Regions from separate parts of the Homo sapiens genome. Here region 1 is linked to region 2. Evidence: fine-mapped expression QTL. A gene starts in region 2. The other region holds a variant in brackets. All regions are shown on one strand. Distances are between the middles of the regions. Region 1 holds the start of CLEC7A (C-type lectin domain containing 7A). Region 2 holds the start of CLEC1A (C-type lectin domain family 1 member A).

What was found.
Region 1: its variant is fine-mapped to the expression of CLEC1A in whole blood (TOPMed, PIP 0.91).

The regions. Positions count from the first base shown.
Region 1 is chr12:10,124,814-10,130,204 of GRCh38, reverse strand. CLEC7A (C-type lectin domain containing 7A) reads left to right here and starts at 6. Exons shown (of 6, transcript NM_197947.3): 1 at 6-225; 2 at 2,360-2,458; 3 at 3,497-3,634; 4 at 4,757-4,908. The coding sequence starts at 123. The region is part of intron 1 of LOC105369655 (a long non-coding RNA gene); the gene reads right to left. The variant G/A (reference allele first, on the strand shown) is at 3,102.
Region 2 is chr12:10,096,526-10,101,916 of GRCh38, reverse strand. CLEC1A (C-type lectin domain family 1 member A) reads left to right here and starts at 2,932. Exons shown (of 6, transcript NM_016511.4): 1 at 2,932-3,109. The coding sequence starts at 2,995.

The DNA of each region.
Region 1 (5,391 bases), 28 kb before region 2:
CGGTAAGTACCTAGCCCACATGATTTGACTCAGAGATTCTCTTTTGTCCACAGACAGTCATCTCAGGAGCAGAAAGAAAAGAGCTCCCAAATGCTATATCTATTCAGGGGCTCTCAAGAACAATGGAATATCATCCTGATTTAGAAAATTTGGATGAAGATGGATATACTCAATTACACTTCGACTCTCAAAGCAATACCAGGATAGCTGTTGTTTCAGAGAAAGGTATATATATGTTTTTTCTAATGTGTGCCTTTAGCTCTCCCGTTTGAAAAGATATAAGGGGAGGCTAGGCATGGTGGCTCACACCTGTAATCCCAGCACTTTGGGAGGCCGAGGCGGGTGGATTGACTGAGGTCAGGAGTTCGAGGCCAGCTTGGCTAACGTGGTGAAACTCTGTCTCTACTAAAAATACAAAAATTAGCCGGGCATGGTGGTGCACGCCTGTAGTTCCAGGTACTTGGGAGGCTGAGGCAGGAGAATCACTTGAACCTGGGAGGTGGAGGTTGCAGTGAGCCAAGATCATGCCAATGCACTCCAGCCTGGGTGGCAGAGCAAGACTCCATCTCTGAAAAAAAATAAAAATAAAAACAAAACAAAAAGATATAAGGGGAGAAAATTTGAGAGCCTCGTGATGTGTATATTTTTATGGATATACTTTTAAAGGCTTCAGATGTCACTGAAGATAAATTGAATGCACCCTAAACCTTTTTTCATGAAAATTATTCAGTGACCAATTATTAGTGTTTAAATTAATTATGTCTGATGGCAGAAAATAGAATTTCTCTTTTCTATAGATATAGACATTTCATCAGTGAGGAATTGGTAATAAGTGGGATAATACACAAAGATAAAGGATTTCTGTATGAGTGACTTGTTGCTTGTTTGATAGAAAGGCTAGATTATCGAATGGAGGCCAGGAAACTTAAAGAAGTATATATATGAACAACATTTTTTTTTTGTGGTAAGAGATTAATTTAAATTGTTTTTAAACAAAAAACAATTATTGGTATACCAGTGATGGAAAATATATGAACATATGGTAGATAAAAACATCCCACCAGCAGGACATGAGTCTTAAACAAAGTGTAAATGAAATGAAATAGAAAGAAGGGCATTGGAGGATCTCTGTATTCATAGAATGGGTGATTTAGCCTACTCTACGATTCTCCTATGTGACAATTCTATGAAATGTCCTGACAGCTTAGTCACAGTGGAAAGCAGAAATACATTCTGGTTATGGCAATGTTCATACAAAATTAGTTCCCTATTATCTTTGAGAGAGAGAGATCATTTGTCGGTTTTGACACCAGAGTTTGCTTTCTTCTGCTTTCTGGTTATTCACACTGCACAAATATTTTCCTCTCAGCACTGATGTAATTCTTTTCTTGGGCAACCTATTGAGGAAGCGTGGAAAAAGTGGATGAGGCAAGAGGTAGGGAGACATGCGCATGTTTATGCATATGTGTAGGCAAACGGTATCCTGCAACAACACACCTATCATGTGCTAGCAGTCTCTAAACAAGGTGCTTTTATATGTGTTAGCTCGTTTAATTCCCGCAATAATCCTTTGAGATATTATTACCCCAGTTTCACAAAGAGGAATAAAAAACAACAAAGGGAGTAATTTGCCCAGGGTCATGCAACAAACATATGAAAAGGGAAAATTACCCTTAGTAATCAGTGCTATCTCCCCAACATTAAGCTATTTCCTCTAAGAATCAGTGGGATTTCAGGGATCCTACTAATGTCAAGACCTGTAGATGTCAATGTGGAACTGAAATTAGGAGCATACAGTTATCAAGCCAATGTGCCGAAATTACAATTCCAGCAATTGAAGAAGAAGGTATCCTTACTGGTGGAGAAGCACAGCAAATCCTAGGTGACCAGGTAACCTAGGCAGTGATTAATAATTCACTTAAAAATTTGCCAGTATTTTTTGTTGTTGTTGTTGGTGGTGTGTGTGTGTGTGTGTGTGTGTGTGTGTGTGTGTGTGTTTTAACAGGGTATCACTTTTTTGCCTATGCTGCTCTGGAATTCCTAGGCTCAAGTGATCCTCCTGCCACAGCCTCCAGAGTAGCTGGGACTACGGGAGCTCACCACAATGCCCAGCTAATTAAATTTTTTTTCTTTCTTTGTTTTTCTTTTTTTTTTTTGGTAGGGACAGGGTCTCCCTGTGTTGCCCAGGCTGGTCTTGAGCTTCTGGCCTCAAGCAATCCTCCTACCTCAGTCTCCCTTCTGGGATTACAGGTGTGAGCCACCGTGCAAGGCCAGATTTTTGATGAACTGTAGAATTAAACTGCCCCACCATCCGTCATTCTCTTTCTTTATTCCATTTCTGCCCCCTCTGGCTCCTCAGGATCGTGTGCTGCATCTCCTCCTTGGCGCCTCATTGCTGTAATTTTGGGAATCCTATGCTTGGTAATACTGGTGATAGCTGTGGTCCTGGGTACCATGGGTGAGTATTTGGTGGAGGAGATTAACAACAGACAATTTAGTAAGCAATTATTATGTGCCAGGCACTCTTTTAAGGGCTTGACATGCATAATCTACTTTAATTTGTATATAATCTGGTTTTATCTGTATTGGGTTGGTGCTGTTAATGCCCATTTCACTTATAAAGGGTGTGAGAGACTGAGAGGTTATTTTACCTTTCCAGGGTTATAAGCTAGTTAGTGGTGGGACCATGATTAGAAATTTGGGTGATCTGTCTAAAAAACTCATACTCTTAACTACATTGCTCTCCTACCTCCCTTACATAGCTGGTTTCAAAGCTGTGGAATTCAAAGGATAAATTAATGAAGAAAACAAGCGGAGCTGAAGAAGAAAGTACAATATGGTGCTGTCTTCCTAATGAAATAAATTCACTAAATGGACATTAAGCTATTTTTATGATTCACATTATTTAAGGAAATTATTTCCGATCTTTAATATAAACACCTTTGAATACACCAGAAATTTCCTGAGGCACTTGGTCTTAAGTCGATATTTTGTAATGGATTAATATTTTTTTTACATTTTATATCACATGCAATCTGTTGTCAGTCACCTTCAGAGAGTCTTCATGACATTCCTTAATTAGTCAAATGTTTATTGAGTGC[G/A]TTCTATGTTATAGGTACTGGGCAGTTTCTCAAGGATCTCTCATTTTTAAATAACAGAAGAAAGGTGAAAGATGTTGCTATTTCAAATCTGTCATGGGTCCAATTGACTCTATGACATTTGCCTCTTGCTGCCTCCCTCATTCTATTTCTTCTTCTCCACCTTCTTTTTTCTTTTCTTTTTTTTTTTTTACTATACCTCCTTTATAAAAGTTATGTATTTCTTTTCATCTATTCTATCAATCGTCTTTATCTCTCCACAGCAATATATCATCTATTTATCATTAATCAATAATGTATTCTTTTATTCCAATAACATTTGGGTTTTGGGATTTTAATTTTCAAACACAGCAGAATGACATTTTTTCTGTCACTATTATTATTGTTGGTATGTGAAGCTATTTGGAGATCCAATTCAGGAAGCAACACATTGGAGAATGGCTACTTTCTATCAAGAAATAAAGAGAACCACAGTCAACCCACACAATCATCTTTAGAAGACAGTGTGACTCCTACCAAAGCTGTCAAAACCACAGGCAAGGGCATAGTTAAAGGACGGAATCTTGACTCAAGAGGGTTAATTCTTGGTGCTGAAGCCTGGGGCAGGGGTGTAAAGAAAAACACTTAGATTCAATGATTGTAAATTTAAGGCAAATACACATATTAGTATTACCTTAGTGTAATGTATCCCTGTCATATATACAATAAGGTGAAATTATAAGTACCCTATGCAGTTGGCTGGACAGTTCTAAATTGGACTTTATTAATTTTTAAAATCAGTAACTGATTTATCACTGGCTATGTGCTTAGATCTACAGGAGATCATATAATTTGATACAAATAAAAGAAAAGTGTTCTCTCCCCTTACAGAATTGACATTTTAAATGCGATACAGTTAGAATAGGAAATATGACATTAGAAAGGAAGAATGACAGGGAGAAAGGAAAGAAGGGAAAATGTTGCCAAGAATAAGGAAGCTATATTAAAAATATACAAAAGAGGTAGACCTAATACACATGTCCCTGAAAACTCATCAAATTTGTTTAATCATACAATTTCATTTACTTAATTACAATTCTATACACACTTGACTTTTACTTCTAATTGCATCATAATTGACTATGACTTAATGTTTTCAGTTCAATTTTTCATCTCTGGACCCATACCTTCTCACTATTTTTATTAAGTAGCTAATAATATATAACAGAGATAGTGTATAATATGAATAATTGGCCTATACTTTTCTCACTTGGAAAGTCACATTATGAAGTAGATCTTACATCATAAAATAAGTAGCAATATGAAATTGCTGTGTACCTCAATGACTGATTGTGAGTGGACTTATTTTAAGGAGTTATTAAGGAGAAAGGTAGTTTTGAGCTGAATTAGAAGGAATAGAAGACAAGTGAAGAAAAAAAGGATGGTTGGCTGCCTAAAATACTATTTATAGCTAGTTTGTTTTTAAATTTTAAATGAATAGGAAGATTTTAATGTATTCTCATCTGTAAAATCATATCCCTGTAGTTCGAATTGACAATGAAATATAAAAATGGCAACTAATTGGTTATTTCATAAGTGTCCTTAAGATGAATGGTGTTCACACTAAAAGAGTGAATTGGTATGCTATGAACCTCATGGTACTAATCTTTTATTTCCAGGGGTTCTTTCCAGCCCTTGTCCTCCTAATTGGATTATATATGAGAAGAGCTGTTATCTATTCAGCATGTCACTAAATTCCTGGGATGGAAGTAAAAGACAATGCTGGCAACTGGGCTCTAATCTCCTAAAGATAGACAGCTCAAATGAATTGGTAAGTGTAGACTTCTGTTATGATTATCTGTGGTGTGTATCCTGAAGGAAGATAGAGGGAGATTCCAGGTAATGACAATTTTTCCTAAAATGAAGTCTTTTTTTTTTTTTTTTTTTGAGGCAGAGTCTCACTCTGTTGCCCAAGCTAGAGTGCAGTGAAGCCGCGACATCCCAGGCTCAAGTGATCCTCCCACCTCAGCTTCCTGAGTAGGTAGGACTACAGGGTGCACCACCACACTCGTCTAATGTTTTTTTGTATTTTTCATAGAGACGAGGTTTCTCCATATCATCTGGGCTGGTCTCAAAATCCTGGGCACAAGCGATCTGCCTACCTCGATCTCCCAGTGTTGGGATTACAGGTGTAAGCCACCATACTTGGCCAAAATTCATTTTTAATATCTCTATAATTATAATCATAGCATGCCTTAAGCACATAAAGTGCATAGTATATGCTTTTATTTTTAACTAATTTAAAAAACTGTGT
Region 2 (5,391 bases):
TAGACTCAGGACCTCCTGGTTAGACAGGGTAGTGCAGGAAGTGGTAATAGCTGAGGTCACACAGTAGTTTTGTCCTTCTTGAGTGCAGTGTTATTCCACCTACAGATGCTGCAATGGACTGTGTTGGTAGGCTTCCAGCTACTGGGTGGCATTTGCAAAAGAGTATCAGGTGTGGTAGTAGCAGTGGGATTTGTGCTTGCCTTATGTTGCCCAGGGTAGGTAGTCTGGCTTCTCAGGTGATGGATGGGGCTATAAATCTCCCCAGGGTTTCTGTCCTTTGTATTAAGCTACCACGGTGGGTGGAGGGGCAAAGCCAGATGAGGGCTGTGTTAGGTGGGTCTGCACTCTGAGTCACCATGTGCATGGCAAGCAGCGGCCCCTTTTGGAGATGTGGTTGCACAGGGAGTGGGGAGTAGTAGGCAGCAGTAAGCCTAACCCAGATGTCACACAGTTGGCAAGGCAGATCTGGCTCCTGCAGTACTCTGCTAGCAGCAGTGAGCTAAGTTCCAGGCAGTCTGCACTCAGAGCTCACAACTGCCTGAGGCCATAAACTTTTCCCGTGGTGATAGCAACTGCTGGCGTTCAGGCCATGCCCCTCTCTGTCCACCCACACAGCTGGCACCCAGATCCTGCACTCACGGCTGCAACACATTTCCCACTCACCTTTCTGGTTCTGGCCAAGGGAGTTCATTTCACTTGAGGTTATATTGTGAATTTCAGTTGGGAGTTTTTACAATGTGCAACCCCTGGCTGAGCTAGTTGGCTGAGTTCCGTGAGGTTGTCTGTGAGGCATAAGGAATAGTTTCCCTTGGCTCATGCTGGAGACTGGGAATGCACACAAGCCTCTTCCTGCTGCTGCTCTTACTTTTATATTCATCACTGCTCTTTTAATTGGTTCCAGTGCTGGGACGGGTTAAGGCCTTCCCCCATGGCATGGACTTTCAGGTTCCCCTGTGGGGGTATGTATCCTGGAGCCAGTCTCTTCACCTCACACACCCTGGGAGCTTACAGTTTTTCACCTAGCTCATGGTGTAGGTATAACCTGCTGCTTCTTTCAAAGAGTCTGTGGATTCTTTCAGTTTTCCTGTTCAGTTCCTGTGTTGCTTCTTGGGAAAAGAGTTCACAGTGAGAAGGTTTTTTTTTTTTTTTTTTTTTTTCAGATGGAGTCTCGCTCTGTTGCCCAGGCTGGAGTGCAGTGGTGTGATCTTGGCTCACTGCAACCTCCGCCTCCCGGATTCAAGTGATTCTCCTACCTCAGCCTCCCCAGTAGCTGGTATTATAGGCACCCGCCACCACGCCCGGCTAATTTTCATATTTTCAGTAGAAACGGGGTTTTGCCATGTTGGTCAGGCTGGTCTCGAACTCCTGACCTCAGGTGATCCACCCACCTCAGCCTCCCAAAGTGCTGGGATTAAAGGCGTGACCACCATGGCTGGCCCACAGTGAGAATTTTTTACTCACTATTTTGTCCTTCCAAGTGGTAGAGTCATGCTAACACTGCCTCCAATCTGCCATCTAAAAAAAAAAAAATTCCAATTTTTAAAAAATTTAGAATAATTTGATGAACAACAAACAGCTTGAAACACATGTGAATCCACAATGTGCACTTCCTCATAGATCTTTTATATGGTCTGGCTACCCCAACTGGAGCATTCTGACACTCCTTTATATTTAGCATGCTTGATTTTGCCCACCTATCACCTAACATCTGGAAAAGTTTTGGTAGAGTAATATAAGTCTATTGTACAGATTCAGGAAGAACTTTTAGACATTATCTAAAACAATCTTCTTGTCTTTCAGTTTAGGAAATGTAGATGCAAATTGTTAATTGTCCTCCCAAAGGCACAAGGTTGTTACTGATACCTGTCTTGTTATGGTTTGAATGTGTTTCCTGCAGAATTCAGGTGTTGCCAGTGTGGTAGTATTGAGAGAGGTGGGGCCTTTAAGAGATGATTAGTCCTTGAAGTCTTCTCTCTTGAGGATGGTATTAAGGCCTTTATAAAAGACGCTACATGTAGCATTTGGCTGGCTTGACCTTCTGCTTTCTGCCACGTGAGAATACCCTTCCTCCTCTACAGAGAGTGCAGCTCTCACCTGACATCCAAACCTGCCAGTGCCTTGATCTTAGATTTCCCACCTTCTGGAATGCTGAGAAATACATTTCTATTGCTTATAATTTATCTGGTCTCAGGTATCCTGTTGTAGGTCAGCACAAACAGACTAAGATGGGAATATAATTCTAATGTACTGATTCAGGAAGAATTTTTTCACATTACCTAAAACATTTTCTTCTCAGTTTAGGAGATTTAGGCACAAATGAACTGGCTTCCCCAAACCACATGGTGGTTAGTAATAGTTTTAAAAGTTTTTACTTCCAGTAAATTGTATAATTCCTCGTGATCATAATGTACCAAATGTGCTATAAAATGTTGAATCAAGTTCAGATACTATAAGAAAGACCACTACTCTGTTCTTGGAGAAAGGAAGGGGCTAGGTCCTATAATCTCTTCTCTTTTCACAAAGACACAGAGAGGTTAAACTAAGTGACTCCCTAAAGGATGGGTAAGAAACAGGGATGTGTGTCCTTCCAAGTTATTATTATTCTGCAGACTCTGAAGGAACCACAGTGCTACACCGTGCTATTGTAAGTTCTTGCCTTCTTTACAGTGAAGTTACATGAGAAATGCAAACAGGTAAACAAAAAAGACCTGAGAAAGGCCAACTTTTTGACAACTGTTTAGACTGAGACGGCCTAAACAGAAAACACATGCTATTTCCCCTCAGCCTGACTGATTTGGCATTCAGAGTACAAGCTCACAGGAGAGGGGCTGGGCCTGTCCAGTCAGGAATTGCAGTCAGAGACTTTCCCTGCCCCTCGCTGGGAAAGAACATTAGGAATGCCTTTTAGTGCCTTGCTTCCTGAACTAGCTCACAGTAGCCCGGCGGCCCAGGGCAATCCGACCACATTTCACTCTCACCGCTGTAGGAATCCAGATGCAGGCCAAGTACAGCAGCACGAGGGACATGCTGGATGATGATGGGGACACCACCATGAGCCTGCATTCTCAAGGCTCTGCCACAACTCGGCATCCAGAGCCCCGGCGCACAGGTACCCTGTCTCCTGGAGTCCAAATAGACCACAGTCCTTGTGAAATGTGTGAGATGATCTATCCCTCCTAGAAATGGAGATATTTAGCTTGCATCTTATAATTTTATTTCCAATTACTCGCCCTGTGACATAGTAGTGATTTTTTTTTTTCAGTTATATTCAGTTCCATAATTCCCACACTTAGAGAAGGATTTTATTTCCTGGGCCACTCAGCCAATCTAAAGCTAAAATATGACTTCAGTTCTAGTGAAAAGGACTCACATGGTAATATACACAGGACTAGGTTCTAGGTCCTAAACCAGGTATGCCACTTTCCTTCTGTGTAACTTTGGATGAGTTGTTTAAGTATCCTGGTAGCATCATATTCTTTATTTATAAAATATTAACGGCCACAAACATGTATAAAGGGCTCATTATGTGCTGGCAGTGTTTTAAATACTTTAAGTATATTAATTCATATTAACTTGACTTAATATTAAATAGAAGTAATAAAACTTCCTTTACAAGGTGGTTGTGAGTACTGAGAATGATAAATTATGTAAAATATTTGAATGTCTGTCTGATCTGATATAGACTGACACAAAATTGCTGAAAGGAACACTTTAGGTTCTTAAGAAATGGAATGTTGAAAGGAATCCCACATTTTAACATTCATTCAGTGCCTGTGTTTTAATATGCCCTTTCCCTTCTGATTATATCATTGTTTTCTTCACCTTTGTAAATCTGGATATACCTTTAAAAAAAAAAAACTATCCTGTTCCTTATTTCTTTATCAAATAACTTTTAGTTTTCCTTCCTTTCTCCTACTAAACCCTCCATTCACTTTCTATTTATTTCTATTTATTAAATGACCCTCCACCTGAAACCTACTAATATGGCTTTTTTTTTTTTTAACTAAACTACCCAGTAAGCTGTTAAGGGACATTGGGGATTTCCAACCTCTTTGAAATGAAGCTAAGTGACAAAAGTAGGGATGTCAGCTTTTGTAGCCACAGGATATGTGTAATAGGATACAAAGCGTTTTCCTCCAAAAAAACTTACGAAGAGTCCATTTTTACGGCTGTGGTTTTGAGTAGCTTGTATATAACTTCATTTTCCACCTTTGACTGGAGCCAGGAACTCTGTCAAGGACTAGAGATCAGCATAATTAAGAACAGCATGTACAAATAAGTTCTGCTGAGGTTGAAGGGTGGAGAGGGAGGTGGAGCAAGATAAAACACTAGCTGCAACATCTGGGAGCTTCTTTGTAAGAAATGGATATTGAAACAGTAGAAGTGGAGATTACAAAGAATTGTCTTGGAAGAAATCATCTGGAAATAGTTATCTTAGGCAACATATATGAGATCTTGTTTTCATCTTTTTATGGTAATACAAACATTTAGGGGAATACCATCATAGAAGTATAATTATTTCTTAGATAAACATATCTGATATACCTTCGCTGATAAAAATAACAGCAGAAATCACTCAGAAATTTTCGGCAATGTGGAGGATTCAGATTCAACATAATGATGTGATACCATTAAGAGCTGGCAACTTTTATTTTTTAGAATTAATAAAAATAAATCACACACACATTCATTTAATTTCTAGACTTTTGTCAATAACAATTGACGTAACAACTATGTTTGTGTTTAAAAATGCCAAACAATTAAGATAGTAAAAATGCCAAACAATTAAGATAGTGAAAATGAAAAACAACAACCTCATACATTTTTCACAAACTTATGTTTGGGGTCATGTTATCCTAGTACTGAGGATATAATGTCCAATGTGATATGGTCCCTGTTCATAAGGAAATTGAAAGTCTAATACAATTCTCAACTAAGGAGTAAGTATAATAAGGTGTTATGGCAGAAGCATGTACAGTACAGCCGAGAGCTTAACCAAGCTCTCGGCTTAATTTTTACCTAATTAAGTAGAGGAGTTCAGGAAAGGCTTAACAGAAGGAGCAACTGTGGAGTTGAGTTAATTTTAACATCTTCCACATAATAAGGAATCGGGAGTGAGGGTGTTTGAGAGGCTGGGGACACTATAGACAGAGAGACGTATGAAGGGAAAGTCATGAAGGTTTTCAGTAGCTTTGTATTTTTAGAGAACTATAAGCAATATGTATGGCGTAGGTGTAGAGTTGGAGGAGGGAAACTTAGCAAAGGGGTAAGTCTGGCAAGTTAAGGAGGGATTTTAGGGCATGCTGATCTAGTTTAATTCTATTCAATAGTTAAAATGAAGTCAATGCAGGATTTAGATAGGGAGAAACAAAATTTTGCATTTTGGAAAGA